Linked DNA regions of Homo sapiens: all the other regions are linked to region 4. The links come from fine-mapping of genetic effects on gene expression. A gene starts in region 4. Each other region holds a variant in brackets. All regions are shown on one strand. Distances are from middle to middle.

The links. PIP is the estimated chance that this variant, and not a neighbour inherited with it, causes the effect.
Region 1: its variant is fine-mapped to the expression of BST1 in whole blood (TOPMed, PIP above 0.99).
Region 2: its variant is fine-mapped to the expression of BST1 in whole blood (TOPMed, PIP above 0.99).
Region 3: its variant is fine-mapped to the expression of BST1 in whole blood (INTERVAL, PIP 0.96).
Region 5: its variant is fine-mapped to the expression of BST1 in whole blood (TOPMed, PIP 0.98).

What each region holds. Positions count from the first base shown.
Region 1 is chr4:15,735,049-15,740,959 of GRCh38, reverse strand. It overlaps a transcript of BST1 not described here. Among named protein-coding and RNA genes, the nearest start is that of BST1, 35 kb to the right of the region's middle. The variant T/C (reference allele first, on the strand shown) is at 3,085.
Region 2 is chr4:15,720,194-15,726,104 of GRCh38, reverse strand. BST1 (bone marrow stromal cell antigen 1) reads right to left here. Exons shown (of 9, transcript NM_004334.3): 8 at 3,171-3,230. Among named protein-coding and RNA genes, the nearest start is that of BST1, 20 kb to the right of the region's middle. The variant T/C (reference allele first, on the strand shown) is at 2,273.
Region 3 is chr4:15,764,903-15,770,813 of GRCh38, reverse strand. It overlaps a transcript of BST1 not described here. Among named protein-coding and RNA genes, the nearest start is that of CD38, 10 kb to the left of the region's middle. The variant A/G (reference allele first, on the strand shown) is at 3,262.
Region 4 is chr4:15,699,794-15,705,704 of GRCh38, reverse strand. BST1 (bone marrow stromal cell antigen 1) reads right to left here and starts at 2,640. Exons shown (of 9, transcript NM_004334.3): 1 at 2,373-2,640; 2 at 64-190. The coding sequence starts at 2,560. RefSeq lists a silencer at 2,622-2,701.
Region 5 is chr4:15,728,607-15,734,517 of GRCh38, reverse strand. It overlaps BST1 (bone marrow stromal cell antigen 1), which reads right to left. Exons shown (of 9, transcript NM_004334.3): 9 at 1,731-2,778. The coding sequence ends at 2,673. It also overlaps the pseudogene RPL10AP7. Among named protein-coding and RNA genes, the nearest start is that of BST1, 28 kb to the right of the region's middle. The variant T/G (reference allele first, on the strand shown) is at 2,687.

The DNA.
Region 1 (5,911 bases), 35 kb before region 4:
ACCCTGTGGACCCCTCACGAACCACGGAGTTGAGTAGTTGCGACAGAGGTTGCATGGCCAGCAAAGCTAAAAGTATTACTTCACCTTTTACAGAAAATGTTCATTGGCCTATGGCCTAAAATCTGAGGGATTCAGTAGTCCCCGTCCCAGTTGCTGCACTGGGAATCTCCAGACGGATAGTTTGGCTTGTAAATAATGCTCCAGCCTCTGTTGCTGCTCCTTCTTCACCAACATATAAGAAATAAAATTACATTTTATTTTAATATCCTCAGCTCTGCTGTCAAATATTTGTTATAATTTAACAAATTAATAAATTTGTTAAATAAGGTGCAAATGCTGAAGACAAACTCAGTAGTTGAGAACATAAACCTTTGTATAGATTAGTCTCCCTACCTGAAAATATTTCCAATCCACCCCCTCACACCTTCACCTCTCATCTGGCTAATAGCTCTCGTTTTTTCAGGTTCAACTTAAGGAAGACTTTCTCTGGAAAGCCTCCTCTCCCGATACTAGACTATGTTAGGTTTCCCCCAGTGCACAATCCCAAAGGACTCTGTTTCATCTTCATCCCACAAATGAAAGTAGATAATAACTACTAATTTAGGCCCGACATGGTGGCTCATGCCTATAATCCTAGCACTTTGGGAACCCAAGGCGGGCAGATCACTGTGGTTAGAAGTTTGAGACCAGCCTGGTCAACATGGCAAAACCCCGTCTCTAGCAAAAAGAATACAAAAAATTAGCCAGGCATAGTGGCGTGTGCCTGTAGTCCCAGCTGCTAGGGAGGCCGAGGCATGAGAATCACTTGAACCTGGGAGGCAGACGTTGCAGTGAGACGAGACGGTGCCACTGCACTCCAGCCTCGGTGACAGAACGAGATTCAGTCCCCCCTGCCCCCAACTAATTTAGTTATCAGCCAGTGAGGATCAGGAGATACACTCTCTCCCTGTCTCTCTCTATCCTTATCTCTCTCTCTCTCCCTTCTTCCCTCTCTTTCTCTGTCTCTCTCTGTTTCTCTGTCTGTCTGTCTCTCTCTCTGTCAATGTCTCCCTCTCCTTTTCTCTCTCTCACCGACTTCCCTCCCTCCCTTTCTCCTTCCCCCTCCTACCACCAAATTTTATTACTAGCAGCAATGGTGAACAATGACTTCACTCTGATTATATTTCTGTACACATCTTTTTACCCTACAAAATTTAATCGAGTTTAATGTGTTCCCCTGAGAGCTTGTCACTGTATGTTAACTATTTTAAAATTTTACAAGCACCATCTTAGAGTTACTGTGTCACATGTCCTATAGCAAAGTCATGAAGGTGCAGCTGGCACAAGTCAAATGAAAACCCTTCTACTTTTGTGCAGGGGAGAAATACACACACACACACACACACACACACACACACACACACACGGTTTGGCTTCTTAACATGCATTTTTCTCAAATAAGTAAGTCATTTCAGTGAAGAGTTTGGGTAATTCTGACAGCTACCCTTTAATAGCTACATGATAAAAGAAGTTCCAAAGAACCAAATCACGTAACAAAGAATACATGTGCTTTAGAGAACCTGCTGCATTCTACATCTTTTAGGGGGAAAAACAAAACTATATTCCTAAAATTCTAAGCGGAGTGATTTAATACATATACGTTTCATATTGAAACATGTTTTAAAGAGACTACCAAGAAAACACAAATACATAAGACTTCAAGTAATGAGTAATTATGGTGAAATTAGCATAGTTCAGATTTTCCAACCTGCTTCATTGGTTATGCATGTGGGTGTTTGAAACCCTTGCCAGGTCTTTAAAAACAAGCTCCCAGTCTCAGCAATAGCTGTGCCCTGTTCTCCAGCATGGGCTTTCAATTTGCCCTTCTCTTTGGTGCCAAAAGTCTCCTGAGAAGAGTAAGGCTGAGTTCTGGGTTTCAAATGCCTGTGAATTAAGTTCTAGCAACTGCAGAGTCTCCAATGATGATTCATTGTCCTGAGTTCCACTTTCTCACCCTGGGAAACTTCAGAAAGACTGAAATGGAAATGAGCATTAGGAGCTAGGTCCGCTTGCCTGGGCTGTCTCTCAGGTTAGTGGAACTGGGATTACTTCTCAATCAGCCATGTTCATTTGGCACCTTTGGCAAACCTCAATTTTCACAGCAGGAGAAATAAAAAAAGCTAGTGTTCACTTGGCACATGCCTGCTTCTAGTCTTTACTTTGGAAATTTTCATTGTTGTGTTAGCTTACCAGGGTGGCCATAACGAACTATGAATTTGAGGGAACACAGTTCCGTCTGTAACAATCGTGTGGAAGCTGAACTTCAAACAGGTAAGCTATCAGCTGGCTAACGTGTGGTCATTCCCACTTCCCATCAAGGTTTTTTATTTTTATTTTTATTTTTTTATCAAACTCTCTTGCCTTCCAACATATATTTTTAAATCAAACAATATTTAGGAATGTTTTTAGGATCTTTTTCTCCTTTTATACTGACCAACATCATAGACTCCTCACCCTGTTTAACATCTTTGTATTCTCCGGTCTTTGTGAATGTCCCTCTGCTACCTTACTAGACACACCAGACTGACCGACTCTCTTATCAAAGAATGACTTATAGACGTCATTATTCTTTTTCCCAAGTGTCTGAAATTCCTTTTCAAATTAGGCTTTCATTTTTTTGAATAGGCTTTAATGTTTAGAGCAGTTTTAGGTTCACAGCAAATTTGAGCAGAAAGTACAGAGCTTCCCACATACGCTCTGTCCCCACACATACATAGCCTCCCCCACTGGCAGCATCCCCACCAGAGTGGTGGAGTGGTGCATTTGTCACAACTAATGAACCGACATTGAAACATCATGGTCACCCAGCCTCTGTAGTTTACCTGAGGGTTCACCCTTGGTGTTGTACCTTCTGTAGGTTTGGACACATATATAATCACCTGTATCCACAATTCTAGTATCATGCAGAGTATTTTCACCACCCTAAATATTTGGGAGTCCATTTTATCCTGTTTCCTCTGAAGCTTGTGGAGAGCATTCATGTGGACGGAGCTGGACTAGGCAGGCATGCAATTGACTCAACTCTTGCCAGAGCCTCTGGAGATT[T/C]CGGCTTCCTTGCTGTGGGAGTGGAAGGCATTTACATCTTTGGACTCTCTGACAGTCAGTATCTTCCCCATCATGGTTCCCACAGTTTCCTGTTCAGGTTCAGAAAGTACCTTGTTACCAAGTCTATCGTGCTAGAGGGAATACAGCCAAGTGTAAGGTACCTGGTACCTACGACAGGAGAGGAAAGAGAACTCAGTTCTTCATGTGCCCACCCAGTCCTTGTGCTCAGGGGTCTTCCATGTGCATTTCTCTTTTGGTCAAATGCTTAGCATTGTTCATTCACTTGGTAGAAGAGCATTAAGTACCCATTAAGTGTGCCAGGCATGGAGCTGGTGCTGGGACCTGTTTGTTGAAGACACACGAGGCTGGTTTTCTTAGCTGCTTTTGCCAGGGCTCCCTGCTGCCCCCTTGCTGCCCAGACCATGGAGGAACCGAGGCCAAGAGAGGTGACCTTGGCCAAGTAAGAAAAGCTTTCTATGTCTATGTTTTCTCATCTGTAAAATAGGATAATAAGAGAATTGATCCTATGGGGTCGAGTGAGGATTGAAAGGGGCCATTTATGAAAATACTTCACACAGTGCCCAGTGCACAGTAACTTCTGATCTGCAGAGAGTGCTGTATTGCAGATGGTGTTTAGACAGCTATCAAACAACTCTAGTAGTAGTAACAATAACACTAGCAAATAACACTTATACAGGGCTGATCTACTATACTCCTGGCACTGTTCTGGGTTCTTTATGCACATTCGCTCATTGAATTATGAGTACTTATAATCCCTACTTACACACACGGTGATGCAGCTCAGGTAAGGTAAGTGAGTTGCCCAAGGCTACACAGCGAGCAAGTGCTGAAGGTAGGATGTGGGCCAACCTGTTAGGTGCCAGAGTCCATGCTCTTGGCCACAATGTTAGGCTGCCTCCCCATTTCCTTTGTCTTGATTCCCCAAACCCAAGGTTCTCACCCAATCTGATCAAATGCTGACTAGGTCATGGCTGGTCAGGGTAAAGCATTATGACAGACACAAAGACAAAGAGGTAAAGTTGCTGTCCTCAAGAGAGAGAGACATAAAAACAAATGGATCTGGAACTAAGTAAGGCTTCGAGGAGGAGGTGAGCAAAGGTACCAGATCCAAAGGCTTATGTTGAGAATACGGAACTGAGAGAAGGTTCATGGAGAGTGCAGTGGGGTCTCCTGGGACACAGACCTAGTAAGGCAGTTTAGGGGCAAATGGAAAGATCTTGAATCGCAGATTTTTTTTTTTTTTTGGAGACAGAGTCTCACTCTATCACCCAGGCTGGAGTGCAGTGGAGCAATCTAGGCTCACTGCAACCTCTGTGTCCTTGGTTCAAGCAGTTCTCCTGCCTCAACCTTCAGAGTACCTGGGATTACAGGCACGTGCCACCACGCCCAGCTAATTTTTGTATTTTTAGTACATACAGGGTTTCACCATGTTGTCCAGGGCTCCTGACCTCAAGTGATCTGCCCACCTTGGCCTCACAAAGTGCTGGAATTATAGGCAGGAGCCACTGCGCCCGGCTTCTTGAAGAGCAGATTTTAAAATTTGAAATTTGTCTTGCCAAGGGTAGGAAACCATTGCTGATTTTGAGCAAGAGGACGATGCACTCAGGACCCTAGCGTAGGACATTGCTCTGGCAGCATTGTGGAAGTTAGGCTGAAGGAGAAACCAAGCAGAAGCAGAGAGATCAGTCAGGAGGCAATGATATGTTTGAAACCCATGATTTACCTTGTACAAAGGCTAGAACCGGCGGTTGTATGGTTCTGCTCTGGGTCGCACTCCTAATGTCCCACATAGCCTCTTGGGTCTATAAATATAAATATGTGCATAAAAACACATAGAAAAATGTCTGCTACTCTGCGTGCAGTATGACAGATGAGATTTGCCTTCTTCCTAATTTTTCTGTATTGTGTAGATTTTTTTCAAGTAAAGAGCCATTATTACTCTTATATTCGGGAAAAAAGTGAAGTTATGTTTAGTTTTTAAAAATAAAGCCTTATTTTTCTTATGGAACTCAAAATGGCATTTCTCTAATTGAGTCGCAGGTCACTGTGCTGTGAGTGGCTAAGTCGCCTGGTAACCCAGGCAACATGAAGGCAGCAGACACTGTGTTTTCCAAGCTTGGTCTAAGAGACGCCCCTTGGCTGGGGCTCCCATGGGATTGGCCTAAGGAGCCAGACGGTCCTGAGACAAACCATGAATTATGAATTGGAAGTTGGTTGGTTGGGTCCTTTTCTCTTTCTCTAAGTACCCAAAAGTCTTATGCTGCTTGTCATCTTCCCTCACGGCTCCCCTCACACACCCTAGCAATATCACACACTTCAAGTGTTTTATGAAAGTATGCCATAAATACAGAAAAGCATGCCACACCTTGTTATTAAGCTTCCCTTGTACCCTCCCTGGCCTCCTCCAACAAAAGAAAGCTAAAGAATCCCCCACCCTCTGTTTTCCTCTATTAAACTTAGTTCATTCACACGTGGAAGGTCTACTTCATCCAAGCAGGGCTAGGCTAGGGCTGCAAAGATGAGTGAGTCTGCAAAGAAGCCACAGTCCCAGGGTGAAGTTAGGCAAGGACCCAAACAATGCTGACACCATGAAGATGGGCCCTGTTAGGGAATTCTTTGCTTTTTTGCAGGGAGAGAGGTCAACAGAAGGATCCAGGGAGGAGGTGATGCTTAAGGTATGTCTTAGAGTCTGCCAGATGGGAGACAGGGCAGGAAGGAAAATCAACACAGAGAGACCAACATGTTCAAAGACCCTGAGGAGGGAGAGAGTAGAGAGCACGTCTGGGTAGAGCACCAAGCAACTTGG
Region 2 (5,911 bases), 20 kb before region 4:
CTGTATCCCCAGCTGTTTGGGAGGCTGAGGTGGGAGGATCACGTGAGCCCAGGAGGTCAAACCTGCAGTGAGCCGTGATTGTGCCACTGCACTACAGCCTGGGTGACAGAGAGAGGAGAGAGACCTCGTCTCAAAAAAAAAAAAAAAAAAAAAAAAAGACCGCACTTCACAAGTAGGTCAGTCAGAAGATAAACACTATAAAAAAGAAAAAAAATGCAGTCACATGAGGGTTTTGAAGAGCCACAGTTGTGAGATGGAGGCTATGATTTTAAATATTGAGATCAGGGATCAGGGTAACCTCATGGAGGCTTTGTAGATAAGAAAACTGACAATTTCAGATCATCTGACTAACTCAGTAAGAACAGAGTGCTTACTACTGCCAAAACGGTGTTTCCACAGGCTGATGAGCAGGAAAGCATATGATATCTTATGGGAAGTGGATCAAAACTAGCCTTGAAATAAACATTCCAGATGAGAAGCTGTGGGTGACGTGTCTGGAAAGAGTATGATGAACCTGGAAGATGGGACTAGAAGTCTGAACTTGGTAGTAGGTAACTTTGAAGGTTTTTGAGCAGCAGCGACATGAGGGTGGACTTCATTTTCAGGTGAGGAAAGGAAAGACCCAGGTTCACAGGCTATCCTTTACCTCCTGTGAAAGGACTCAGAAACGATGCATGCCAAATTCACAGGGAACGAATAGCATTAAAGAATGAGGAGAGGACTTAAATCCATCACCGAACCCTGGGATGTTGGCTCCTAGAATACATGCTGGAGATGATGGGTCTGTTGTCCTAATTTCCAGCCCAAAGAGCAAGACATCTGCCAGAGTGAATTTTGACAGTTCTCAGACTCCTTCAGATCCTGGTTCTGCCTGCACTAGCTGGGTGGTCTTGGGTGAGTCCTTCATAAACTTCTCTGAGCCAGAGTTTCTTTGCTTCTGAAGGGAGAATATGAACCTACCCACATTGGATCAAATAAAATCTGGCTTCTGTCTAAATGACAGTGGCTTAGAGAAGACAGATGTTTATTTCTCTCTCAGTAACTCTTCAGGGCTGGTAGAGTGATGCCATGGTACAGAGGCACCCGGCTTCCTTTTGCTGTGTTACTCTGCCACGCCCAGTTGAAGACGCTCACCTCCACATCTTGTGGGCCCATATACCAGCCAGCATAAAAGGAGAAAGGGAATGTAAGTCCCTTCCTTTCAAGTGCTAAACCCAGAAATTGCACATGTCACTTGGCCACAGTGGGTAGAGAGGCTAGGATCATTATTCTTGATAGCCATGAACCATCTAAAATTCAAGGGTTCTATTACTAAATGAAAAAGAGAATAAGAACTATATGGGGATGACAAGCCAGCTCACCAGTGCATGTGCTCTCTTTCTCTCTCTCTCTCTCTCTCTTATTTTATTTTATTTTTTGAGATGGAGTTTCACACTTGTTGACTGGGCTGGAGTGCACTGGTGCAATCTCGGCTCACTGCAACCTCTGCCTACTGGGTTCAAGTGATTCTCCTGCCTCAGCCTCCCAAGTAGCTGGGGTTACAGGCACGCACCACCACTCCTGGCTAATGTTTTGTATTTAGTAGAGATGGGGTTTCACCATGTTGGTCAGGCAGGTCTTGAACTCCTGACCTCAGGTGATCCACCCGCCTCAGCCTCCCAAAGTGCTGGGATTACAGGCATGAGCCACCACACCCAGCCTGACTCTCTTTAATGTACTGGTTATTCAGATAAACATACTATTTTATGTAGTGCACACAGCAAATGCCTAGCATATAGTTACTGTGCACTCTGATTAGTTCTCTTCCCTTGTAGATGGAAGAACGGATCCTACAGGCATAGATGGTGCACCTACTATGTGCAACTGTAATGAAAAATACTAAGAGAAACACAAAGAGGAAGGCAGAGTGAGGCAGGCAGATGGTACAGAATGAACGATAGCAGGGCTAGGAAGAGTAAAGCACTGTCATCAGGTTGTGTACAAAGTCCTTGGAAGCAAAGAGAAGGGAGTTCCTCAATCAACGTGGAGAATGAGGAAAGCCTCACAGAGCAAAGAACACTTGAGTTGGATTGTCAGGATAAGTATGATGTTAGTAAATAGATTTCGGAAAAGAATTCAAGTGGAGGGATCAGAAATCTTCCTGCCCACACAAACTGAAATGACAATAATGCACTATGTTTTACCCCTAAGATGGGCTAAAATGATAGGCTATAGGTACAGGCACAGATACAGATATGGATATAGAAAATACATAGCGTGGAGGAGTGGAGAA[T/C]GGGCACTCCTAGCATATACTGGTGGTGGAAGTGTATGCTGGCACAGCCTTTTTGAAACATATCAAAATTTCTCAGAACATATCAAAATTTAAAATACACACACATTCTTTGACTCAGCAACTCAATTTCTGGGAATCTATCCTACACAAATACTTGCACAACAGCTTAAAGTATATAATCAAGGATTATATTTCAGCATTGTTTATAATAGCAAAACAACTACTATAACAACATACAACCAAGCCAGCCCATGACTCAGAAAGGATTACATAAAAGGTGGTGTGGGCCAGGCGTGGTGGCTTACGCCTGTAATCCCAGCACTTTAGGAGGCCAAGGAAGGCGGATCACAAGGCCAGGAGATCGAGACCATCCTGGCTAACACGGTGAAACCCCGTCTCTACAAAAAAATACAAAAAAATTAGCTGGGCGTGGTGGCAGGCCCCTGTAGTCCCAGCTACTCGGGAGGCTGAGGCAGGAGAATGGTGTGAACTCGGAAGGCGGAGCTTGCAGTGAGCCGAGATTGCGCCACTGCACTCCAGCCTGGGCGATAGAGCGAGACTCTGCCCCCCGCCTCCCAAAAAAAAAGGTAGTGTGACCATCCTACAGATTGCTCTACAGCCACTAACAGACTAGGACAGAAGTATGAACAAACTTTAAAGGGTGGCCCCATTACACCAGCAAGTGAAGAAAGCTCACAGCAGGACGTTATGTGTAGCGTGATTGCTTTTTGTACAAAAACTAAGACAGATACATATAAATAAAAATAAGGCCAAACCAGAATCCAATGAGCACACTTACATCTGCCTCTGATAATATGTTCATGTTTGTGAACTGAAAACTTCTGAAAGGAGATGGTTATCTTTGGAAAGAACGATTTGGGTTAAGACATTTACTTACGACTTTAAGGCACAGTCAGGATGGGTGCTGTGGTCCACGCACTGTAAGAGCTTCACTGGTCTACAGAAAGAAAATAATATTTAAGGGATTATTTAAATAACTTTCATCCATCAACCATTTATGGCTTGCCTGAAAAGTCCTGGAGATACAGTAGTCTCTGACCTCAAATAATACACAAACTATTTCCTCTAAAAATATTAGTGGCCCAGCACGGTGGCTTACACCTGTAATCCCAGCACTTTGGGAGGTTGAGGCAGGAGGACTGCTTGAGACCAGGAGTTTGAGACCAGCCTGGGCAACATAGCGAGACCTTGGCTCTACAAAAAAAAAAAAAAAAAAAAATCTAAAAATTATCTGGGTGCAGACGCTCATGCCTATAGTCTCAGCTACCCAGGAGGCTGAGGCAGGAGGCCCAGGAGTTCAAGGCTGCAGTGAGCTATGATCGCACCACTGCACTCCAGCCTGGATAACAGAGTGAGGCCTTGTATCTAGAAAAACTAAAACAAATGAAAATATTAGCCAGCATTTATCAAGCACTTCCTACGTACCAAGACATTTGATTATATCTTTTGTAAGGATCATGTCATGTAATCCTCATAACAACCAAATGGAATAGGTGCTTTATCTTCTCCAATTTACAATTGAGAAAGCTGACCACAATAACCCACCCAAGTTCTCACAGTAGCAAGTTGAAGGGCTGAACTTGAACTATGCAGGCTGACTCTAGGGCCTGAGCTTCTAACCATTTCTGTATGCACGTACAACTCGTATGACCTGATAAGTACTTTGGGCAGAAGGTTGGACTTGAACCACATGGGTGATGGCCAATGCTCAGGCATCAGAGAGGAAAGCTAACTTGCTGTGCACAACAGAGGGAGAAGATGTGAAGTTCCAAGCCACCAGGAGGGGAAGGGAAGCAGCAATGAAGACAGGAGCCAGGTCTTGGTGGCACACGGGGAGTTAGGTAGGAGGCAAGCCTAGACAGGATCTCTGTGGCACGATCACTGCAGGGGACTATGGAAGAACAGGAACGTGATATTGTTGTCTCTATGGCATGCCATGTCTTCTGTCCTTGACTCAGCTACCTTTCAGTAGTGTCTACTTGATGCACATATTTTTATTTTTTATTATTATACTTCAAGTTCTAGGGTACATGTGCACAACGTGCAGGTTTGTTACATATGTATACACATGCCATGTTGGTGTGCCACACCTGTCAACTCGTCATTTACATTAGGTATGTCTCCTAATGCTATCCCTCCCCCCTCCCCCTACCCCACGACAGGCCCCAGTGTGTGATATTCCCTACCCTGTGTCCAAGGGTTCTCATTGTTCAGTTCCCACCTGTGAGTGAGAACATGCGGTGTTTGGTTTTCTGTCCTTGGGATAGTTTGCTCAGAATGATTGTGTCTAGCTTCATCCATGTCCCTACAAAGGACATGAACTCATCCTTTTTATGGCTGCATAGTATTCCATGGTGTATATGTGATGCACATATTTTTAATAAAAGTAGTTATCTGTCATTGTTTATGCCCAAAAACAGGTATGGAGTTTTCACTGAGTCTGATTCAACACAGTACTGGCAGAAACCAACCAGAAGGTAAGGGAGGCCATGAAAAGATAAGCCCCCTCCAAAATGGGCAAGAACCTCAGGGAGAACTTTCTACTGATGTGGGGCAGAAGGCAATGCCACCTGAATTGTGAGGGGCAGGAGTTTCTCACATCTGGGTTGGAGTTGGATTTGTTATGTTAACCCTCATCACTTTCCCATTTATACCTTTCATTATATCCTCTCTGCTCCTGACACTAACACAGAAACAGCCTATGGGCAATAAAGAAATGGGAGCTTCCTCATTTCTTTACTGAGTCAGGCCTGGAAGAGAAGAGCCCTGAGGCTGACTGAGGTAGGGACACAATAGAGAGGAAGCACATAAGCCCAGACCCAGGGCAGCCGTGAGGGGCAAGGAGACCTGGGCTCTGGCCCGGCTATTATAACTCAGCCCAATGACATAAAAACAAAGCAAAGTGGTTGTGAATGCAACAATTTTAGCTACAATTTTCTCCATCATTGAGCTTTTTGTTGTTGTTGTTTGTTTGTTTGTTTTTGAGGGGGCGATGGCTAGGGGTTTACTTTGTTTTATTTTGAGACCAGGTCCTGCTCTGTCACCCAGGCTAGAGTGCAGTGGCACCATCATAGCTCACTGTTCCCTTGAACTCCTGGGCTCAAGCAATCCTCCCACCTCAGCCTCCCAAATAGCTGGAACTACAGGTGCATGCCACTGCACTTGGCTATTGAGCTGTTTTGGATTAAGAACTGATTTTTTTTTTTTTTTTTGAGACAGAGTCTTGCTCTTGTCACCCAGGCTCTTGTCACCCTGGCTCACTGGAACCTCTGCCTCAAGTGATTCTCCTGCCTCAGCCTCCCGAGTAGCTGGGATTACAGGCACCAGTCACCACACGCGGCTAATTTTTGTATTTTTAGTAGAGACGGGGTTTCACCATGTTGGCCAGGCTGGTCTCGAACTCCTGACCTTGTTATCCGCCCGCCTCGGCCTTCCAAAGTGCTGGGATTACAGGTATGAGCCACTGCACTCGGCCAAGAATTGAATGTTTTTTAAAATGTACTACTGGAGCTTCAATTAAGGAAGGAAGAGCTTGGTAGCAGGAGGGAAAGAGCGTGCGTTAAGGCCATGCAAAGCTGGGTTCAAAACTCAGCTCTGTCACTGAGTTTAAAGCTTAAA
Region 3 (5,911 bases), 65 kb before region 4:
TCTGGCCCCTAGCAAGTAGTCAACAAATAAGCATTAATATTGCAGTGGTGATGTAGCAAACAGGGGGAATCAGAAGGAATCGGAGTGGTGTTTGTTTATTTGTTTGTTTGTTTTGAGACGGAGTCTCACTCTGTTGCCCAGGCTGGAGTGCAATGATGCAATCTCGGCTCACCGCAACCTCTGCCTCCCGGGCTCAAGCGATTCTCCTGCCTCAGCCTCCCGAGTAGCTGGGAGGCACGTGCCACTGTGCCCAGCTAATTTTTGTATTTTTAGTAGAGACGGGGCTTCACCATGTTGCCCAGGCTGGTCATGAACTCCTGACCTCAGGTGATCCACCCGCCTCGGCCTCCCAAAGTTCTGGGATTACAGACGTGAGCCACCACACCTGGCCCGGAGTAGTTTTTAGGAAGCCTTTGAAAAGACAGTGACACCACAGCAGGCTGTTGAAGGGCAAGCAAGGTTTGCAAAAAGGAGGGAACAGCATATAAACAGAACGGCGGGGAGAACAACAGATTTGGGGACACCTGGGGACAAGAGGCATGACTATCTCCAGGCCACACAGCTGGTTAGTAGAAACATTGGTTCTAGAATAAAAAGCACACATGTTCTTCTTTCTTTGGTCAACTTCATTAGTCATTTTAAAATCATTCAAGTAAAAAAAAAAATCACATTTTAGCCATGCCCGGTGGCTTACGCCTGTAATCCCAGCACTTTGGGAGGCCAAGGTGGGCGGATCACTTGAGGTCAAGAGTTCGAGACCAGCCTGGCCAACATGGTGAAACCACGTCTCTACTGAAAATACAAAAGTTAGCCAGGCGCAGTGGCACACACCTGTAATCACAGCTACTCAGGAGGCTGAAGCAGGAGAATCACTTGAGCCTAGGTGGTGGAAGTTGCAGTGAACTGAAATCGTGCCACTGCACTCCAGCCTGGGCGACAGAGGGAGATTGTCTTTAAAAAAAAAACAAAAAACTACATTTTAAAAGTGGAAATAGAGCAAAGAAGAAAAATGCTCCCACTCGTAGCCCAACTACCACTAACATTTTGGTAGTATCTTGCCTTTTTTTCCCCTAATCTTTGTTAGCTTTAAAAATGATTAAAAAATATTATTTGATATTGTAAACATATATATACATATATATATAGAGAGAGAGAAATTCTGTTCTTTCTGCTTCACTGTGTATACGTGGCTCCTTCCAGGCCATATGTCCTCTCCCAAACCACCAGAGCCCAGACTCCAATACCAGCTCTCCACCCCCACTAGCTCTTTGAGCCTGAGCATCTCATGTAACTCCCTGTGGCTCAGGCTTGCTGCAAGAACATGTGAGTGTACATGTCAAGCAAAAAGCAGCCAATTTCCCTGGGAAAGCTTCTAGAAATGGGGGAGCCTCCTCTCTTCAGTTCCCCCACTAGAAGGGCAGCTCCATGCCAACAGGGCCGTTGCCTGCCTTTGTTCACCAGAAATACCAAGTTCTCTGTCCCTAGCACCAGAACCATGCCCAGTATGTGGTTGGCACTCAAGCAACGCCTGCAGAATAAGCAGCTCCTTCTCCCACAGTTCAAACTCAGTGACAACAGGCTGGACATTCACCAACAGATCCAAGGTCTTCATCGGATTCACCGGCTAAAACCATCTATCAACAAGCATCTGTTGGCTCATTTGCTGAGAAATAAGGCACAATGTTGAAGGGAGAAAAGGGAGATGCTGGAATTCATACATAATTCTTGTTTTTTTTTTTCTTTCAACAATAATTGCTAACATCGTTGAGTGTCAGGTCCTTTGTGAACTGTACCCTCACAACACTGCCATCATGTAAACATGTGATGATTTTCATATTGTAAATGTGAAAATAAAGGCTTACAGTTGACAGACTCAGTCTGTTCTCAAAGGGGATTTATGCCCCATAGTGGGAACTTCTGGAAACATGCTCTTGGGTACGGGTCTGTGGCAGCTGTCAGGAGGGCTTTTTTTTCCCCAAGCCAAACTGTATTCAGTTTTATTAAAGATACTGTCCATCGGCCGGGCGCGGTGGCTCACGCCTGTAATCCCAGCACTTTGGGAGGCTGAGGCGGGTGGATCATGAGGTCAGGAGATCGAGACCATCCTGGCTAACGAGGTGAAACCCCATCTCTACTAAAAATACAAAAAAAAATTAGCCGGGCGCGGTGGCGGGCGCCTGTAGTCCCAGCTACTCGGGAGGCTGAGGCAGGAGAATGGCGTGAACCCGGGAAGCGGAGCTTGCAGTGAGCCGAGATTGCGCCACTGCAGTCCGCAGTCCGGCCTGGGTGACAGAGTGAGACTCCGTCTCAAAAAAAAAAAAAAAAAAAAAAAAGATACTGTCCATCAACACTCATGGTATTTCAGCAGGACATGGGCAGACAATCATTAACAGTATACAACAACTTTCAAACTCTCTTCTTCCATGGACTACCAAAAATCAGAAAGCCACTCTAAAACCCATGAAGCTTTCGACTGATGCTCTAAACAGGGAAAGTTTAGAGTGAGGGTTGACATTTCACATTTAGCGCATTGTTTAACAACTTTAAATTCTGCCATTTTTATTTCACTTCCTGAAAGTCAGGGTTATCTGAAGATCCACAGTCTAGAATCGGAACCGCTGCTCTTTGGAGGGGCAGCATCTCAGTGGCATCACTGGAAAGTCCAGATTGCCTAACACACTGGTAACCAATTATTGGGGGTCAGGTCCCAACAGGTGTCTGGATTTAAGGGAGTTAAGTCTGTGCTGAAAGGTAGAAAGGAAGAAGAGGATTTAAAAATGAATGATTTTGTTTTTCCATACCACAAAGCTTTTGTGCCAAGGTGACCATGTGGTCAAAGTCAGGGAATCCCTCCTCCTGGGAGCCAAGAGGAAGTCTTTCAAAACTACAAGGGGGCTGAGCATGGTGGCTTATGCCTGTAATCTCAACACTTGAGGAGGCCGAGATGGGCAGATCACTTGAGGTCAGGAGTTCGAGACCAGCCTGGCCAACATGGTGAAATTCCATCTCTACTAAAAATAAAAAAAAAATTAAAAACTAGAAGGGAAAAGTGTTTTCCCCACATCAATCCAGCTTCAGAGACATTCTATTAGTGACGTATGCCCCTTCCCCAAAAAAACAATAAAGTGTTCTGTGTGCTAACAACATAGCTTTAAAAAGAGTAAAACAAAATTCTGATTTTTATAAAACTTGATTAAAAAAAAAAAAGTAGGGCCGGGCACGGTGGCTCACGCTTGTAACCCCAGCACTTTGGAAAGCCGA[A/G]ACGGGCAGATCACAAGGTCAGGAGATCGAGACCATCCTGGCCAACATGGTGAAACCCTGTCTCTACTAAAAATACAAAAAATTAGCTGGGTGTGGCGGCACGTGCCTGTAGTCCCAGCTACTCAGGAGGCTGAGGCAGGAGAATGTCTTGAACCCGAGAGGTGGAGTTTGCAGTGAGCTGAGATCACACCATTACACTCCAGCCTGGTGACAGAGCAAGACTCCATCTCAAAAAAAAAAAAATTGATAAAAAGTAGTATTTCAAACTGTGCAGCCACCAGAAGTACACAATTTTCAAAAATGCACACATTTCCCTCGGCACCCCCAGCACCTTTGGCTTTCTGTGTGCCACGTCTGTTCGGGCATATCCATTTTCTGCAGGGTTATCCGCTCCTTGCCAGCGTCAACTTTTCCCTTTGGGTACTTTCTCTCCCTTCTTTGCAGGGGTCTTTTTAGGCTTCGGCTCTGGCTTTGGAGGGGCAGGGTTAGCAGACAACTTGCAGATCTACTATGTGGTTCATGCTTCACCTTGGCCTTATCTACTATAGCATCCCCTTCAGCTGTTCTCTTGGGCATGCTGGCAACGGCAGTGGGACATGGGCACTGGGCGTGGGATGCAGCAACGTGTGGGCATTGGTTGGTCCAGGGATTGTTCTCCCCTTTTCTTCACACTTCTTCTGGTCAGAAGGCTTTGAGTGTCACCAGGAAGCTCAGGGTTAACCTGTTTTTTTTTTAGGGAGGTCTTTTTTTTTTTTTTTTTTTTTTAGGGAGGTCTTTGTCTCCTCAATATGTTTTGTGCCTCCTCAAGTCAGGATACCATCACGAAAAGAAGAATAGATAAATGCTGAATGTCAAAAACAACAGAAAAGCATGCTCGTTGATGCCACACAGATCACACCTGTGACCTGCTTCTTTCTAGCAGATTCATGTAAGACAGCTGCATGATTTCTCCTCCCACATCCTGAAACCGAGCAAGGCTGAATCTTGTATTTACTACTCTTTCTGTATTTTTAATGAAATAAGAGTAAATAGAACTTGGCAAGATGCCTCAAAATGCTTTTAATTCACTTGGGCTGCCTGCCCTTCATTCTAGGCTTCCTTGTTTATTTCATCAGAGTAAAGACAGGAGTTCATCAAAAGTCAGCTTCTCAGCCACATCCTCCCTTAGGTCTGACCGCAGCTTAACAGATCTGGTGACTTTTCAGCTCTCCCACTGCCCCACCTCCCTCATCCAGTTGTTTTTCCTTAACCTTCAGGTGACAGTTTAGACACTCCAAATCTGAGACATCTTTTACAGGCCTTCATGTCTGGATTACAAGCTCGTATCATGGATAACCATATGCATCCTATACTTCCTGATTTTTTGGGACAGTTTTGCCACCCTACCTCCATCCCCAACTAGATTATAGAAGGATGCCAAACAGTCTTTGTCTCAGGTACGTCCTCAGTGGCTAGCAAGTCCCTGGTGCTTAGAGGGCACTGCACAACTGTATGTTGATGAGTATCACACTGTAATGCAATTCTTTTGACTTCCATCCCCTTATTCAGCCATTTGTGCATTAAATATTTACTGAGCACCATGAACTATTTTAGTACTGGGTTTATAGCTGTTAAACAAATTCGGTTGCCAGAAGCTTATGTTTTAAAGGGGAATCGACATATAATAGACAAGATAAGTAAACCATAGCACATGCGAGGTGATGATGAGGGCTAAGAAACAAACTCAGCAGGGAACAGGATAAAGACTTGGGGGAAGGTTGCAATTTTGGGTAAAGGACCAAGGAAGGTCTCACTCAGAAGGTGGCACTTGGGTAAGAATCTGAAGAAGGTGAGGTGAAATCTGGGGGAACAGGGCTCCAGACAGAGAAGAGCAATTGCAAAGGCCCTAAGGCAGAAGCAAGCCTGGTGTGTTCAGAGAACAGCAGAGGTCAAGTAACAGGTGCATGGCACAGGAAGAACAAGGAGGAAATATGTGGGAGATGAGGATAGAGATTTAATTGTGTGTTTGGGACCCGGAGATAGGCAGGCGCTGGTGCACAAGAGTGACATGTCCCGACGTGTTTTGTCAGGCTCACTCTGGCTGTTTGTTGAGCAGAAACGGAAGTGGGGCAGGGACAGAAGCAACGAGGCCATTTTGGAAGCCATGGTGCCATAATCCTGACAAGAGATGATGGTGCCTTGCACTGGGTTGGCATCAGCAGATGCAATTAAATTCTGAATATATTTTAAAGGTACAACAGACCGGATTTGCCGATAGAGTAAAGAGACAATGAGAGTAGTCAGAGACAACTCCAAGATTTTTGGCTTGAGCAACTGGAAGGATGGAGTTGTCGTTTACCAAGTGGAGAAAGACTATGAAAGGAGAATTCATTGGAGGTATGTCAAGTTTAAGATGCCAGTTATGTATCCAAGTGAAAATGTTGAGACAAACACCGTGCCATGCTCCACAAAGGTTAACTTGTTCAATCCCCATAAGAACCCCATGAGGTAAGTAGTACTGACCCCATCTTACAGGAAAGAGACTGAAGCCTGAAGCCCAGAGAGGAAGAGTGACTTTTCCAAGTTTACCTAGCTGGTTGGTGGTGGAAGTGGGGAACTGGGATTCAAACCTATGCAATAGGGCTCTGGAATTCATGCTTTTCTACACTTT
Region 4 (5,911 bases):
ATGCACCATCCATTTCTGTAGAGACAGAGAACACAGTTTTACCCAAGATGGTTGTGGTGTTACCTTATCTCTGGGAATAGAGTGCCTGGACAAGTTAATAAAAAGGTCATAGTCTGAGGGCAGCACGGAGCAGGGATCCTTGTCCAGCGCCACTTTAAAGGCTTCCCAGATGGCTGTGCAGTTCTTGTTCCTGTGCAAAAGTACAAGTTGGGAAGAACACACACATGCACATCATAATGTGTTGTGAAGTATGCCCATTTGTCTAAGAGCTTTACAAGAGATTTTTCATATAGTAACTGCAGAAGTAGGCTTACAAAAAAGACAACGAATTGTCATGGCTTAGGTGACAGATTCAGAAATCTGACACTGGAATTGTCTCTCTGAAGGCACTGCACAGATTTCTCAGAGCTAAGGAATACAGCCTTGCCCCAGGCTCACGGAGACAAGCAGAAATGGCACCGAGCAGGAGGTGACAAATTCAGTCAACTATACAGCAGGTGCCTCTTCATTTAGACCTAACGGTGGGGCCAGTCTCATAGTCCAGTTCCAGTGTGGAGCTCGGGGACCAGGTGAGGCCAGGCCAGCCAGCAGGATGTGTAGTGTTAGGAGGGAGGCCCAATGCTGCAAAAGGCTTCCACCTCTGGCAAAGCAGGTGCACCCTCCAGTGCAAGCCCCTCTTGAGGTCCATGCTAGTTTTCAAAAAATATTTCCCATAGCATTTGTAACTTTGTTTCTCATACTGGGTGGTGTGTAACACAGGTGGTTCTCTGCTGTTTCTTATTTGCCTGAAATGTGCGACAATAAAAATGATCAGCACAAGAAAGACATCACAAACATAAGAAAAGGGGGGCCACAGAAGGAACAAAAATCAGTAAGAAATGCAGCACTGGCAAGAAAGACCCAAACTTCAGAAATCCTCCAGATTTAGGGGATCTGAAATTTGAATTCTGGAAGGACTGGACTCAAGGAATTCCAACCTGAGATCACATTCTGGGTTCTGAGTATTCAGACTAAACATCTGCTGGGTGGCAATGGGCTGTTACCCAGTTCACCTCTACCCCACCCTCACTTCTAGAGGGATACCTCTCCACCCTCCTTCACACTCACACACACCTCTCACCTCTAGACCACACACACATCCCTCACCTCTAGACCACACACACATCCCTCACCTATAGACCACACACACACACCTGTCACCTCTAGACTACACACACACACCCCTCACCTCTAGAACAAACACACACACATCTCACCTCTAGAACACACACACAACTCACCTCTAGAACACACACACACACACATCCCTTACCTCTAGAACACACACACCTCTCACTTCTAGAACACACACACCCATCATCTCTAGAACACACACATCTCACCTCTAGAACACACACCCCTCAACTCCAGAACACACACACACCCCTCACCTCTAGAACACACATACACACCTCATCTCTAGAACACACACTCTCCTCAGCTCTAGAATACACATACACCCCCTCACCTCTAGAACACACACACCCCTCACCTCTAGACCACACACACATCCCTCACCTCTAGACCACACACACATCCCTCACCTATAGACCACACACACACACCTGTCACCTCTAGACTACACACACACACCCCTCACCTCTAGAACACAGATACACACACACCTCTAGAACACATGCACGCACCCCTCACCTCTAGAACACACACACACACATCTCACCTCCAGAACACACACACCCCTCACTTCTAGAACACACACACCCCTCACCTCTAGAATACACACACCCCTCACCTCTAGAGCGCACGCACACACACCCCCTTCACCTCTAGAACACACATGCACACACCCCTCACCTCTAGAACACACATACAGACACCTCACCTCTGGAACACACACACCCCTTACCTCTAGAACACACACACACATCTCACCTTTAGAACACACACACACACCCCTCACCTCTAGAGCACACACACACACACACACCCCCACCTCTAGAGCACACACACACACATCCACCTCTAGAGCACACACACACCTCCCACCTCTAGAGCGCGCGCACACACACACCCCCCTCACCTCTAGAACACACGCACACACCCCTCACCTCTACAGTGTGTGTGTGCGCGCACACACACACACTCATCTCTAGACCCCGCACAGCGCACCCCTCACCTGCAGACACACTTCACAGCCCCCTCCTCACTCGCCCCCATCGTTCAGGACCATCGCTGTCTCCACACTCACCTCTCCCCTCAAGGCCTCTCTCATTGCCCCCTCACCCCGAACTTTAGCGCCAGTTTTCCCCTCCCCAGGCCCTCCCCACCGTTGCCTCTTTCCGGCTCCCCTTCCACCCGGCCGACTGCCTCACCGCTGCTCGGGACTCAGCAGTGCGCGGTACTCGGCGCAGCGGCCCAGGAAGATGTCCCGCAAGTGTGCGCTGGTGCCCTCCCCGCGCCACCGCGCGCGCGCCCCGCCCGCCGCCAGCAGCAACAGTAGAAGCAGAAGCTGCAGCAGCAGCTGGAGCAGCCGCGATGCCGCGCACCCCTGGGCCGCCATCGGGGAACTTTGGTCCCTCCAGTCCCGTGCTTCCTCCACTCCCCTTCTCTCCTTCTACCAAGGCGGTTCCGCAAACTGATGCAGGGCGGGACTCTCGCTCGGATATCTCGCTGTTTGCCGTTTCCCGTTCCAGACAATTTCAAGACTGAGCGTGGGGCGGGGCGCGGCGGCTCATGCCTGTAATCCCAGCACTTTGAGAGGCCTAGACGGGCGGATCGCTTGAGTATAGGAGTTCGAGACAAACCTGAGTAACATACAGGTGAGAAACCTCCTCTCTACAAAAAAATACAAAACTTAGCTGGTCCTGGTGGTGCGCATCTGTAGTCTCAGCTACCTGCGAGGTGAGATGTGAGGAGGCTTGACCCCAGGGGATCGAGGCTGCAGCGAGCAGTGATTGCACCACTGCACTCCAGCCCTGGGCGACAGAGTGAGACTCTGTCTAAAAAAAAAATTAATAAATAAATAAAATTAAAAAAGAGTGAGCTTGGAACATCACCCAGGACAGGACCAGTGCACTGTGGCCCAGGCTAATCTTGACCGCTGTCCACGGGGAGGGAGCCCCAAAGAAGCCGCAAGGTTGAAGGAGAGGTGAGGAGAGGTCAGTCATCATCAGAAGAAATACTTTTCTGGCTCCAAAGGACGACAACTTTGACAGATGCCCTCTTTCACACCAACCAATAAGTGGTGTTTGTTTGTTTTCAGGAAATAATAACCACAACAACGTGCCAAGCACTTTGCAAGTATAATATTAATTACTTTCCGCAACACCCTTCCTAGCTAAGTTTGTAATTTCTCTCGCTTTAGCAATGGATAAACTCAGGGAAGTTAAGCATGTTCGGCCCTCCAGATTTGCGGATTCATCATCCAAATTCAGCTAACCACGGATGAGAAACATTTGAGGAAAAAAAGAATGCTTGCATCTGTACGGAACATGTACGGACTTTTTTTTCCTTGTCATCATTCCCTAAATAATCCAATGTAACAACTACTTATGTAACAATTACATAGTACTTGATATTACAAGGAATCTGGAGATGACGTGAATTATAGAAGAGGATGTGCAAATACTGTATACTACACCATTTAATATAAGGGCCTTGAGCATCTGTGGATTTTGGTATCCAGGAGGTTCCTGGAACCAATTCTCCATGGATACCTACCGCCGACTGTAACTTGTCAGAGGTCACAATATCCCTTCCTGATAGATGCAAAATCCTGGAGATGTTCAGTTTAAGAGAGCCAGGATTGGCCGGGCGCGGTGGCTCACACCTGTAATCCCAGCACTTTGGGAGGCCGAGGCGGGTGGATCACGAGGTCAAGAGATCGAGACCATCCTTGCTAACACGGTGAAACCCCGTCTCTACTAAAAATACAAAAGATTAGCCAGGCGCGGTGGCGGGCGCCTGTTGTCCCAGCTACTCGGGAGGCTGAGGCGGGAAAACGGCGTGAACCCAGGAGGCAGAGCTCGCAGTGAGCCGAGATCGGGCCACTGCACTCCAGTCTGGGCAACAGAGTGAGACTCCGTCTCAAAAAAAAAAAAAAAAAGAGCCAGTATTAATAGAATACCACGTGGAGGCCCAAGTCCTCAATTCTTACAATAATGACAGCAATGAACTTTGAGTGCCTGGCAAGCACTTGATAAACACAAGGGAGGACAGAACAGGTGTTCTCTACTGTTTTATTTGAATCTCTTTTTTTCTGTAACCAAAACCCGCATTCTCCTGTTCAGTTCCTCCTTAAGTTAAATCCACTTTCCAGAGGAAAGCATTTTTAATTCTTTCAAGTTTTGTTCCTGTGTTTACTTCCATATTTCTAAATAACATGTGTGAACCCGCAAATTTTGAGACAGGTCTCAATTAATTTAGAAAGTTTATTTTAGCAAGGTTGAGGACACGTGTCCATGACACAACCTCAGGAAGTCCTGACGACATGTACCCAAGGTGGTCAGGGCACAGCTTGGTTTTATACATTTTAGGGAGACATGAGATATCAATCAATATATGTAAGAAGTACATTGGTTCTGTCCAGAGAGGCGGGGACAACTCGAAGCACGGAGGGGGCTTCCAGGTCTCAGGTAGGTGAGAGACAAATGGTTGCCTTCTTTTGAGTTTCTGATAAGCCTTTCCAAAGAAGGCCATCAGAATATGCATATATCTCAGTGAGCAGCTGAATGACTTTGAATAGAATGGGAGGCAAGTTTGCCCTGAGCAGTTCCCAGCCTGACTTTTCCCTTTAGTTTAGTAATTTTGGGGCATCCCTGGCATGGCTCGTCCCACCAAATCTAATGTGAAATTGTAATCCCCAACGTTGGAGGTGGGGCCTGGTGGGAGGTGATTTTATCATGGGTGTGGGTTTCTCAAGAATAGTCTAGCACCATCCCCTTGTTGCTATTCTCATGATAGTAAGTGAGATCTGGTTGTTTTAAACTGTGTAGCACTGGCAGGGCGCCGTGGCTCACACCTGTAATCACAGCAGTTTGGGAGGCTGGTGTGGGGGGTGTGTTGGGAATCACGGATCGAGACCATCCTGGCCAACATGGTGAAACCCCATCTATACTAAAAATACAAAAATTAGCTGGGCGTGGTGGCACGCACCTGTAGTCCCAGCTCTTCGGGAGGCTGAGGCAGAAGAATCGCTTGAACCTGGGAGGCGGAGGTTGCAGTGAGCTGAGATCTCACCACTGCACTCCAGCCTGGTGACAGAGTGAGACTCTGTCTCAAAAAAAAAAAAAAAAGAAGTGTGTAGCACCTCCTCCCTCTCTCTTGCTCCCTGCTGCCACCGTGTAAGACCCATTGCTCCCCCTTTGCCTTCCACCACATTTGGAAACTTCCTGAAGCCTCTCCAGATGCAGAAGCCACTATGCTTCCTACAGCCTGCAGAACTGTGAGCCAATTCAACCTCTTTTTCTTATAAATGAGCAGTTTCAGGTATCTATAGCAATGCAAGAACAGACTAATACAATACCTATATGCTATTTCTTGATGTTTCTGTTTGGGACATTATTCTGTTTGGGACATTATGACATTTTATTTGTTGTAAACCTCTTGTTTACCCTGGAGGTAATCATTATCTAGAAAGTAACTAGCTTGCTTTTGATATTACAGGCTCATAGGCAGAAGGCATTTGCCTTGTCTCAGATGAAACTTTGAACTGTGGACTTTTGGGCTAATGTTGAAGTTAAGACTTTGAGGGTCTGTTGAGAAGGCATGATTGGTTTTGAAATGTGAGGATGTGAGATTTGGAGGGGCCGGGGTGGAATGATATGGTTTGGCTGTGTCCCCACCCAAATCTCAACTTGAATTGTATCTCCCAGAATTCCCACGTGTTGTGGGAGAGAGCTAGGTTGGGGTG
Region 5 (5,911 bases), 29 kb before region 4:
GTGGAGGAGACAATTTTGAGAATGATTTCCCGTATATATATTATATTTTAATATATTAAATTTGTATCATACTTTAGACATTTTCATCATATAATTAAGTTTTATATTTTATCTCTTACACATTTTCCTATGTGATTAAATGTTCTTTGAAAACATTTCTTTTTGGTTTACATAAAATAAAATTTACTCTTTTTCATGTACAGGGCCATGAGTGTTGACGAACACTTGGATTCATGCAATCACCACCACAATCAAGACACAGAGCAGCTCCATCGCTCCCAAAATTTTTCTCAGTGTCACTTTGCAGTCAGCGCCTCCTTCTAGTCCTGATCATTCTCAACCCCCACAATCACTGGTCTGCTCTCCGCTACTATAGTTCTGCCTTCTCGAGGATGTCATATAAATAGAATCATACAGTTGGTGGCCTTTTGGTGCGGCAGCTCTCACATTTGGGTTTCATCCATATTGCTGCATATATCAAGGTAGTTACCTTTATTGCTGAGTAGTATTCCATGGTGTAGATTTACCAGTTAGTTTATTCCTTCACCATCTGAAGGACATGTGAATTGGTAAACATGGCTTTTACTTGTTGAATGATACTCCATTCTACAAATATTCTAAAACCCATGTAAATAGTTCTGATATGGTTTGGCTCTGTATCCCCACCTAAATTTCATATTGAATTGTGATCCCCAGTGTTGAAGGTGGGGTCTGGTGGGAGGTGATTGGATCACGGAGGTGGTTTCGGATGGTTTAGCACCATCACCTAGTGCTGTCTCATGACAGAGTTCTCACGAGATCTGGTGGTTTGAAAGCATGTAGCACCTCCCCCTTCACTCCCTTCCTCCTTCTCTGGCCATGTAAGACATGACTGCTTCCCTTTTGCCTTCCATGATGATCGTAAGTTTCCTGAGGCCTCCCCAGCCATGCTTCCTGTAAGCCTGTGGAACAGAGAGGTGAAGCCAGCTGGACTTCCTAGGTCGAGAGGGGACTTGGAGAGCTTTTCTGTCTAGCTAAAGGATTGTAAATGCACCGATCAGCACTCTGTGTCTAGCTAAAGGATTGTAAATGCACCAGTCAGCACTCTGTAAAAACACACCAGTCAGCACTCTGTGTCCAGCTAAAGGATTGTAAACGCACCAATCAGCACTCTGTGTCTAGCTAAAGGATTGTAAATGCACCAGTCAGCACTCTGTAAAAACACACCAGTCAGCACTCTGTGTCCGGCTAAAGGATAGTAAACACACCAATCAGCACTCTGTGTCTAGCTAAAGGATTGTAAATGCATCAATCAGCACTCTGTAAAATGGACCAATCAGCGCTCTGTAAAATGGACCAATCAGCAGGATGTGGGTGGGACCAAATAAGGGAATAAAAGCTGGCCACCGAGCCAGCAGTGGCAACCAGCTTGGGTCCCCTTCCACATTGTGGAAGCTTTGTTTTTTCGCTCTTCACAATAAATCTTGCTGCTGCTCACTCTTTGGGTCCGCACTACCTTTAATAGCTGTAACACTTGCCGCGAAGGTCCGCAGCTTCATTCTTGAAGTCAGCGAGACCACGAACCCACCAGAAGGAAGAAACTCCAGACACATCTGAAGGAACAAACTCTGAACACACCATCTTTAAGAGCTGTAACACTCACTGCAAAAGTCCATGGCTTCATTCTTGAAGTCAGCAAGACCAAAAACCCAGAGGTTGTCACAATTTTGTCACAATTCTGGACACAGAACTGTGAGTCAATTAAACCTCTTTTTTATTTTTATTTTTGTAAATTACCCAGTCTCGGGCAGTTCTTTATAGCAATGCAAGAACAAACTAATACAAGTTCCAAACAGTTTCAGTAAATATGTAAATATTACTGGATATTTTGGGTTTTTCCCTCATTATAAGTAACTATTATGGCTGGATGTGGTGGCTCACGCCTGTAATCCTAGCACTTTGGGAGGCTGAGGTGGGTGGATCACCTGAGGTCAGGAATTCGAGACTAGCCTGGCCAACATGGTGAAACCCCATCTCTACTAAAAATACAAAAATTAGCTGGACATGGTGGCAGGCACCTGCAATCCCAGCTACTTGGGAGGCTGAGGCAGGAGAATCGCTTGAATCCTGGAAGCAGAGGTTGCAGTGAGCTGAGATCTCCCCACCTCACTCCAGCCTGGGCAAAGGAGCGAAACTCTGTCTCTCAAAACAAAAAGGAACCATTAACTGAACATCTTTATACCAAATAAATGAAAAATGAAAACTTTGCAGACCATATATGCATACATTTATATAGTATACATATGTCTTAAGCAATCAACAAGCATGCAGTGTCCGTGCTGCTGGAGATATAGGAAAATATAGATGATGTAAAATACAGCTTTATTAGAATTCTCTTAAAATGTTTGATAATATACAAGCAGTCTGACTCCCAATGCTTTGTGTCATTATACAAATAAGAAAATAACTTGCTTTAATTCTAATGCAGCATTTTTTAACCTGCTAAATAGAACTAACTTCTTGTTTCTGAAATCCTGAACATATGCCTCATTGAAATACCATTTTCAGGACATCGTTTTCCCAGCAAAAAGCTTCTTTAGATAACAGAATCATTTGGTATACACAGAACACGAATGATGACTGCAAGGGGAGGCTGCAGGGCTGGAGGAGGGTTAGAGCAACACAGTTTCCAGTTACAGTTGAGTCC[T/G]GGAAGCCAGCACCAGAAAGAGGGGAATGATAAGACCCGCCCTTTGTTCTGTATAAAGACTTGGGGCTTTTCTTTGAGTAGCGGCTGCTGCCCTGCAAATTAACAAGGAAATAGAGAAAGTGTCAGTATTGGTGTATGGAATCTACGCTCAAAAATATATGTGCAGTATTAGTCTCTTTTCTGGTTAGCGCGGAGCGAGAAGCCATGAGCAGCAAAGTCTCCCGTGACACCCCGTAGGAGGCGGTGCGCGAAGTCCTGCACCGAAACCAGCGCAAGCACCCCAAGTTTCTGGAGATGGTGGAGTTGCAGATCAGCTTCAAGAACTATGACTCCCCAGAAGGACAAGCGCTTCTCGGGCACCGTCAGGCTTAAGTCCACTCCCTGCCCCAAGTTCTCCATGTGTGTCCTGGGTAACCAGCAGCACCGTGACAAGGCCAAGCCTGTGGATTTCCACCACATGGAAAACGAGGTACTGAAAAAACTCAACAAGAATAAGAAACTGGTCAAGAAACTGGCCAAGAGTATGATGCATTTTTGGCCTCAGAGTCTCTGATCAAGCAGATCCCACGAATCCTCGGCCCAGTCCTAAATAAGGCAGGAAATTGCCCCTCCCTGCTCACACACAAGGAAAACATGGTGGCCAAAGTGGATGAGATGAAGTCCGTAATCAATTTCCACATGAAGAAGGTGTTATGTCTGGCTGTGGCTGTTGGCCACGTGAAAAGGACAGACAATGAGCTTGTGTGTAACAGTCACCTGCCTGTCAACTTCTTGGTGACATTGCTCAAGAAAAACTGGCAGAAAAACTGGCAGAATGTCCGGGCCTTATATATCGAGAGCACCATAGGCAAGCCCCAGTGCCTATATTAAGGCACATTTGAATAAATTCTACTGCTACCAGTATAAAAAAAAAAAAAGCAAATTGTGCACACTGTGGAGAAATGTACATAGTATATAGGAAGTTATAAAGTGGAAAGTAAAAGTCTCTTAGTCTCCCCATTTGCACTTTCCATAGAAAACCAACTTTGATAGTTTGAGTTCTCTTTCCAGGAATGCAATGAACACATGCATGCTGAACCTGCTCAATATAACTAATTCCTATTTCTGCAATCCTGAGCACACACGTCATTGAAATACCATCTCAAGACATTCTTTCCTGAGCAAAAAGCTTCTCTAGACAACAGGACCTGCTGCTGCCCTGCAAATTATCCTTAGATGTCTTTAGATATCCTTTTATCTAAGCACAAATGGAATCTGCAACGTGCGTTCTTCACCTAACATCATATTTTGAACATGCTTCCATATTGGTACACAGGGAGTTAACTCATTCTTCCTTGTGGATGAATTCTTATTGTACGGATGGAACACAGTGTTAGCCAGGTTTCCTACTGATGGCTATTACATGATCAGAGTTTAAGTGGTGAAGAAAAACCTGTCCTGACATGAAGACATCAACAGAGGGCCTGCCCAAAATATGGACCCTATTCATAGTAAACAGTATCTGGCCACTGGGTTTGTAAAAACAGAAATTACTGAATTCTTTTAAACCAACTAAAAGATGAATTTTAAAATTATGAAACCATCTAATGTTGGCTTGGAAATATATCCCATGGCTCTGGACTAGTGGCCCTGTCCTTAAAAGTTCCTGACTCCATTTGAATGCTGGTCCTCTCTTTTTTGCTAAAGAAATCTGACCCACAGGTTTGTATTAGTGCTCCACCTACCGGACATTTTCTACAATTGCACCTGTGATGCAGTTAATGTCCCAGACTCGATTCACTCAAAATTTAAAATTACTTTTGCTTTCAAATAATTAACTAATTAACATAAGGTTACATTTTTCTTTACTTTTTTAAAAAATAAAATAACACATAATTAGATACACTAATAATGACAGCCTCCCTTCATCTTTTTCCAGTTTCTATTCCTTTGCCTAGAAGGAACCCACAGTTAGGTGCTTGGAGTTTACTTTCTCAGACCTATTTCTATCACTTACATCCATTATCATGCACAAATAGAAACATGCTGTTTTGCTTTCTTCTGGTTTACATGTCTCGGTTCATGTTCTGTGCATTGGTTTCTCACTTTGTAGCTTAAAAACCTTTTCTTGTCAATGTGAGACTATACTTGAGGGGGTAACTGCACTATTTGCAGTTACTTTGATTTTTAAAATTGATTCTTGTTATTACATTTATATACTCAAAAGCCTAATTTTCCCATGCCCTTTTATTTAATTTATAAATCACATTGTTCTATTTAAAAACCTGGTGAACTCTGACAATAACTCTTAAGGATTTGTCACACTTACTTAATTCCTGTGATGTTTTAAACTCAAGTTATTTCAGGTTAAGTTATTATTATTATTATTATTCTTTGAGACAGGGTCTCATTCTGTCACCCAGGCTGGAGTGCAGTGGCATGACTACAGCTCGTTGAAGCATTGACCTTCCCGGGTTTAGAGAATCCTCCTGCCTCAGACTCCTGAGTAGCTGGGACCATAGGTGCACACCAACATACCCAGCCAATTTTTTGTTTGTTTGCTTGTAGAGGCGGGGTCTCGCCATGTTGCCTAGGCTGGTCTTGAATGCCTGGGTTCAAGTGATCCTCCCGCACTGAACTCCCAAAGTGCTACGGTTACAGGCATGAGCCACTGGGCAAGGCTTCAGGTTATTTTCAACTTAAATATTAAAATATTACATCTTTTTTAAAAAATATTTTAAATGACTTTAAATTAGCAAAACTTTCTCAATTACTTGATTGTAGTAAACCTAATAAATGTATAAAATTTAATCTTAATTCTTTTACAAATTCCAATACTGGTTCAAAACTTAGTAAAATTCTCTTATAACTTCCTACTAAAAATCCCAAGCCTAAAATCAGTTACTTGGCTGAGCATGGTGGTTCACACCTATAATCCCAGCACTTTGGGAGGCCAAGGCAGAAGGATCACCTGAAGTCAGGAGTTTGAGACCAGCCTGGCCAACATGGTAAAACTTCATCTCCACTAAAAATACAAAAATCAGCCAGGCGTGGTAGCTCACACCTGTGGGCCCAGCTACTTGGCAGGCTGAGGCAGGAGAATCACTTGAGCCCAGGAGGTGGAGGCTGCAGTGATGAGCCAAGATCAAGCCACTGAACTCTAGCCTGGGTGACAGAGCAAGACTCCATCAAAAAAAAAAAAAAAAAAAGGAAGGAAGGAAGGGAAAAGAAAATTTTCCAGTAGTG